2 linked regions of the Homo sapiens genome follow. The protein of the gene in region 2 purifies or fractionates together with the protein of the main gene of each other region. This does not show direct contact. Each region holds a gene or a part of one and is shown on either strand. Other genes may lie near its edges.

Region 1 (3,657 bases), on a different chromosome or scaffold from region 2:
TGACCCCCAGTAGATGCCTGAAATCACAGATAGTACCAAACCCTATATCTACTATGTTTTTTCCTATATATACACATACCTATGATAAAGTTTGACTTATAAATTAAGCATAGTAAGAAATTAACAATAATAATAAAATAGAACAATTACAACAGTATACTGTTATGTGAATAAAAGTTATGTGAATGTCAACATTCTGTCTGTCTCTCTCAAAATATCTTGTACTGCACTATAACTGAAACTGTGGAAAGGGAAACCAGAGATAAGCGGGGACTGCTGTATGTTTTACAAAGTACTATCAAGTTTCACTACTTTAAAATACATCAAGTGGGATGTAATATGAAAATATTTTAGAATATGCTGAAAATTGATCACTCCTCAAAAGAATCATGATGAGCTTATTAGAATCTGTTTTGTGATTTGTAATACTAGGAGGCCTTACATCGGGAACAAATGTTGGAACAGAAGTTAGCCACGCTTCAGCGGCTACTAGCCATCACCCAAGAGGCTTCAGATACCAGTTGGCAGGTATTCCAGTTGTTTTATATTTAAGAAACATTTAAACATAGTTTAATATTCCATACATGTTAAATAAACTAAAATGTAGCAAACAAAGACAAAGTTATTTCCTAACTAATGAACAAGTTGTTGAAGATTTAGCATTTTACAGTGGATGCTGGTCAGTTTTACGCTTTTATATCTTTTGTTGTCAGTAGCAACCTTTTTTTATATACATGTGACTTTATAATTACTCGGGTTTTACTTACATTTAATTTTTCTTCAATAGGCTTTAATAGATGAAGATAGACTCTTATCACGGTTAGAAGTTATGGGAAACCAATTACAGGCATGCTCCAAAGTAGGTATTAACCTCAAATGTGTAAAATGAAATGCATAGTTTTTTATGTAACATCATTTCTTTGACTATCATTTTGAGTATATGCTAAAAACTTCATACATTTCCACAATTCTTTTAAATCTTTTGTGCTGAGAAACGTCAGACATCCATGTAAATAAAAATAATTACATAATGAATACCCATGTACAAGTCTGTCTTTTTTCTATTGCAGTTAATATTTCTTGAAAAAACTGGGTCATTTGTCCTCTAGAATTTCCCTCAGTCTGCATTGTTATTTAAACATTTTTTAGCTCCCCCTCCCACTCCATAAAGTAGTAGTTCCATCTAGAGATTTGATGTGATTTAGGTTCAGTTTTTCTTTTTGTCAACAACACTTTATGGATGGTATTGTGTTCTTCCACCAAGGGACAACATAATGTCTAGTTGTCTTTCTTTTTGAGATTTTTATCAATCATTGATGATCCCAGGCTAGATCCATTATTTCATTACGGTTACAAATAAGGCTGGGCGCAGTGGCTCACACCTATAATCCCAGCACTTTGGGAGGATGAGGCGGGCGAATCACCTGAGCTCGAGAGTTCAAGACCAGTCCAACCGACATGGAGAAATCCCATCACTACTAAAAATACAAAATTAGCCGGGCATGGTGGCACATGCCTGTAATCCCAGCTACTCAGAAGGCTGAGACAGGAGAATCCCTTGAACCCAGGAGGCAGAGGTTGCAGTGAGCCAAGATCGTGCCATTGCAATGTAGCCTGGGCAACAAGAGTGAAACTCTGTCTCAACAACAACAACAACAACAAAAAAGTTACAAAAATAATGATGTAATTCTGTTATTCCTTCACTTATTTAGCTGGGTTACTTCTATAAAGAGAAGTTTCCTTCCATACACAGTGGCTCATGCCTGTAATCCTAGCACTTTGGGAGGCCAAGGCAGGCGGATTGCTTGAGGTCAGGAGTTCAAAACCAGCGTGGCCAACATGGCGAAACCCCGTCTCTACTAAAAGTACAAAAATTAGCTGGACATGGTGGCATGTACCTGTAATCCAAGCTACTCAAGAGGCTGAGACAGAATTGCTTAAACCCGGTGGGGGTGGAGGTTGCAGTGAGCCAAGATCGCACCTCTGAACTCCAGCCTGGGCGACAGAGCGAGACTGTCTCAAAAAAAAAAAAAAAAAAAGCGGGGGCAGTTTGAGACCAGTATGGGCAACATGGCAAAACCCAGTATCTACCAAAAATTAAAGATTTGCTTAGCATAGTGGTACATAACCTGTAGTCCTAGCTACTCGGGAGGCTTAGGTGGAAGGATCGCTTGAGCCCAGGAGTTTGTGATTACAGTGAGTTATGATCGCAGAACTGCGCTCCAGCCTTGGTGACAAAGAGAGACCCTGTCTCTAAAAAAACGAAAAAAGGAAAAACAATGGCCATTGTTTTTTGTAACTTTGGCATCAAAAACCAAATACCACATGTTCTCATTTATAAGTGGAAGCTAAGCTATAGGTATGTAAAGGCATAAAGAGTGCTATAATGGACATTGGAGACTCAGAAGTTGGGAAAGTGAGAGGGGAGTGAGGGATGAAAAACTCCCTATTGAATACAATATACACTACTCAGGTAATGAGTGCACTAAAACCCCAGACATCACCACTACATAATTCATCCATGTAACCAAAAACCACTTGTATCTCTAAAGGTATTGGAATAAAAAAATTTAAATAACCCTGAGGTATGTTTTCTACGGGGAAAGCAAGATAAGTGATTTTCTCCCCTTATTTATTAGATTTCAGAATAATGAATTGGTGGTTTTTCATCTACCAAAGACTGGCCATGAAGTGTTTTCTCACTCCACTTAGATTTAAACATATTTGATGTATTTAAATCTGGTGCAGTTGTTTTTCTTGTTTTAGAGACAGGGTCTTGCTATGTTGCCCAGGCTGGTCTTGAACTCCTGGGCTCACGCAATCCTCCCATCTCGGCCTCCCAAAGTGCCACGGCCAGCCTATTTTTCTTATTGATGCTCAAATTATCCCATCTTTGGTCTGTGTAAATGTCTTCAGAGTGATAGCTTCATGCTGTCATTTCAGACAAGATGTTTCAGGCTCATTTTGTACTTTTCCTGCCCCAGACATGAAGTCTGCTTTTCCCCCATGGTACTCTTATTCCTTTTGTTTTAACCATTGTTTCAGAATGCTTGGTGCCTTTGAAGGTAATTGATTATTTTTGCCTACAAATGTGAATATGGTGGCTTGCAGAAAATATGACAAATATAAAAGTAACTAATTTTGTATATTTTAGGGAAATTCTCAATTGCCTATAACTTTTTTTTTCTATAGGAAGTGGAAATTAGTAAGTTTGTGAAGGCATAATTTACTTATGCAACTTGTAAATACATCTTTAGTTAATACAGGGCCAGAATCATTTATGTTTGGAGGTACCTTAATATATAATTTAAAGTATATCATAATGTGTTAATTTTTTTCAAACAATAAATGCTTTTAAAAAATAACTTGTCTATAATTATAAATATCTTTTATTGTAGAATCAAACAGAAGATAGTTTACGAAAGGAACTTATAGCATTACAAGAGGATAAACATAACTATGAGACAACAGCCAAAGAGTCCCTGAGGCGGGTTCTTCAGGAGAAAATTGAAGTGGTTAGAAAACTTTCAGAAGTTGAGGTATTTCAATCAAAAAAAAAATACTAAATAGTATTATGAGTGTTCAAAAAAATCTCAAGCATTCCAGGATACTTTAAACTTGGGTATTATTATATAGTTAGGAAATACTTTCTGTCTG
Region 2 (3,550 bases):
TCATAATGCACCGCAGCCTCAAACTTTTGGGCTCAAGCAATCCTCCTAAACAGCCAGGCCACAGGCACACACCATCACACCCAGCTAATTTTTTACTTTTTGTAGAGATAGGATCTCACTATGTTGCCCAGGCTGTTCTCAAACTCCTGGCCTTAAGATTCTCCTGCCTCAGCCTCCCAAAGTGGTGAGATACAAGTGTGAGCCACTGAGCCCAGCCTCAAATGAAAGTACTTTAGATGAAAACAGAAATGTACTATTAGAGGATTACACAAAATGCTTATAGGGGCTTTTCTTTGTGTAATGAGATTATTGGGATTTCTATTGTCTGGTTTAGTTTGGTTTTATGGGTTTTTTTCTTACAGTGAGTATTTTTGTATCGGGGAGTTGTAAGGAGTTGTGGGATGCATGTGGAGCATCGATTTCTAGGAATATAAAGAAGACTAACAATATTTCAATTTATTTTTACAAACTGTCCACACTCATTAGTCCCCAGCTATTCTTTTTATTTTACTTATTATTTTTTTTTTTTTTAGAGATGGGGTCTTGCTATGTTGACTAAGCTGGTCTCGAACTCCTGGCTTCAAGTGATCCTCCCATCTTGGCCTCCCAAAGTGCTGGAATTACAGGTGTGAGACATCACGCCCAGCTCTAGCTATTCTTATCACATGACCAACAACAGTCCTTTGATTTATCAATTAGTAAAATTTGGTTTGGCTGGGCATGGTGGCTCATGCGTGTAATCTCAGCACTTTGGGAGGCTAAGGCAGGTGGATCACCTGAGGTCAGGAGTTTCAGACCAGCCTGGCTAACATGGCGAAACCCTGACTCTGTTAAAAATACAAAAATTAGCCAGGCGCAGGCGCCTGTAATCCCAGCTACTTGGGAGGCTGAGGCAGAAGAATCGCTTGAACCCCGGAAGTGGAGGTTGCAGTGATCCAAGATCATGCCACTGCACTTCAGCCTGGGTGACAGAGCGAGCCTCAGTCAAAAAAAAAAAAAAAAAATCAGTTTAGGAATGTGCAGTAATTCCTTTCTAAATTCTCAAGTGTGTAAAATAGCGATCCCCATCCTGACACCAGTTTTCTAATTTCTCACTTCATAATGGCCTTCTATCCCACTCTAGCCCTGAGCCAGGATCCTTCCTGGCCTATTCAATTCATCATACCCTATTCAGAGCTTGCCACAGGGAGATTCCAGGACCACAAGGGACATTCCCTTTTCACCCACAACGATAGCCTCAACAATGGCAGGGATTTTCCCTGCTCATGTGCTGGTTTCCTGGAGAATGTCCCATGGAGGCCAACTGGCAGGGAAACCGTCTGGCCTGGATAGGTGGCTGTACTGATGACAGACTTTCAAGCATGTAGCATGACAAGCTAACTTATTATCCCTCTCTTATATTATGAAGTTGACCTAAAAACCACAAAGAAATGAATGGCATGTCCTCCCTACATTCTGCCCCTAAGTATTCATGAACCTGCAGGAGTAAGTAAGGACAATATAAGGATACTGAATAATTTTACTCTAATTCTGGGGAAAAGTAGGCCTCACCAAGCAGAGAAGACAGGGCAATACTTGCACTGCCGTATACCAGGGGGATATTAAACCTACTCATGCTCTTATCTCATAATGTTATGCTTGGTCATCATTTTTCCACTAGAAGCTTTACACTAATGTTCCGCAGAATTTTTCACATCTTAATGCTTCCCTATTTGGGATGCTAGCCTGGGTGGAGTGTTGGGGGATGTAGAGATCAATATTTCACTTTTCACTTAGTGTAGTGGGTTGAAAGGTGGTGCCCCCAAAAGAGAAGTCTATGTCCTAATCGCCAGACTCTGTGAACATTATTTAGCAAAAATGTCTTTGCAGATAGAATTAAGGATCCTAAGATAAGAAGATCTCCCTGGGTTATCTAGGCGGGCCCTAAATCCAATGACAAGTGTCGTTTCTAAGATAAAGGCAGAGGCCTGGCGTGGTGTCTCACGCCTGTAATCCCAGCACTTTGGGAGGCTGAGGTGGGTGGATCACGAGGTCAGAAGTTCAAGACAAGCCTGGCCAACATAGTGAAACCCTGTCTCTACTAAAAATACAAAAATTAGCCGGGCGTGGTGGCAGGCGCCTGTAGTTCTAGCTACTTGGGAGGCTGAGGCAGGAGAATTGCTTGAACCTGGGAGGCGGAGGTTGCAGTGAGCCAAGATTGCGCCACTGCACTCCAGCCTGGGCGACAGAGTTAAAGTCTGTATCAAACAACAAAACAGAGAGAAAAGCAGAAAGAGATCTGCAACACGCAGAAAAGGAGAAGCCAGAGGAGTGAGTGACATGAGAATGGAGGCAGAGATTGGAGTCACATCAAGGAACAGGCCAAGAATGCCAAGAAATGCCAGCAGCCACTGCAAGCTGGAAAAGGCAAGGAATGGACTCTCCCTTAGAGCTTTTGGAGGGCTTGTGGCCCCAATTCCTTGATTTCAGACTTCTGGTCTCCAGAACTGACAGAATAAATGTGTTGTTTTACATCATCAGTTTATGGCAATTTGCTATGGTAGCCACAAGAAACTAATATGCTTAGGATAGTCCTATTTCTAGTGGTTCTATTTTTTTTATATAATTCTTCAAAAAGAACATATGTTGTTTTTAAATTTAAAAAAAATTCCTACATATTACAGTGTTCTTCAAATATTTGACCATAACCCCTAAGAACCATATTCCACATACTAACCCAGTTCCCAATACACATATCCATGGTGGAAAAACGTTTCACAAAATAATAATTATTCTTATTACATAGGGTGCACTGATACTTTCTATTGTATTCTATTCCATTATTATAAAAAGCCAGTTATTATTCTTTAACACTGATTTCACAGGCCACTTAACTTAGAATGACAATGTATGTAACAATTAGAAAGTAACATACTGGAAATTAATTTGGTGTTGGATTCAGTGCTTGATTAGTGTTATAGACTGAGCAACTGGTGCAGTTATTGTGGAAATTATCCAACACCAAATTAATGGAAATGAAGGGGGCAAAGTGTTAAACAACACCACAAATGTAGTCAGTAAAATTGAGACTCTGGGAACTGCTACAGGATAAAGGACCTGTTTTTTACAAAATATAAATTATAAGGCAAAAAATAAGAAAGAGGGCCAGGCACAGTGCCTCATGCCTTCAATACCCAGCACTTTGAGAGGCCAAAGCAGGAGGATTGATTGAGACCAGGAGTTCAAGACCAGCCAGGGCAACATAGCACAATGCCATCTCTTCAAAAAAAAAAAAAAGAAGAAGAAGAAGAACAAAGGTAAAAAAAAGGTGTGGAGGTGAAATTTATAGAGTAGAAGATTTAAAAGACATATCAGTCATATAATGTGTGTACCTTGTTTCAATCCTGATTCAAACAAACCATAAAAATAACTTGTTTTTTTTTTTGAGATGGAGTCTTACTCTGTCGCCCAGGCTGGAGTGCAGTGGTGCGATCTTGGTTCACTGCAACCTCCGTCTCCCAGGTTCAAGCAATTCTCCTGCCTCAGCTTCCCAAGGAGCTGGGATTACAGG

The links. Proteins that work in one complex are often made in the same cells at the same time.
Region 1: the proteins of F2RL1 (region 2) and SLMAP purify together in Homo sapiens (affinity purification with mass spectrometry; 3 studies listed by BioGRID and IntAct, with this or other methods). This does not show direct contact.

Annotation. Positions count from the first base shown.
Region 1 is NC_000003.12:57,857,301-57,860,957, forward strand, and holds part of SLMAP (sarcolemmal membrane-associated protein), read left to right. Parts: intron 1-432; coding exon 433-528; intron 529-787; coding exon 788-859; intron 860-3,398; coding exon 3,399-3,539; intron 3,540-3,657. UniProt on the Homo sapiens protein: Associates with the striatin-interacting phosphatase and kinase (STRIPAK) core complex, forming the extended (SIKE1:SLMAP)STRIPAK complex.
Region 2 is NC_000005.10:76,828,990-76,832,539, reverse strand, and holds part of F2RL1 (proteinase-activated receptor 2 preproprotein), read right to left. Parts: intron 1-3,550. UniProt on the Homo sapiens protein: Receptor for trypsin and trypsin-like enzymes coupled to G proteins.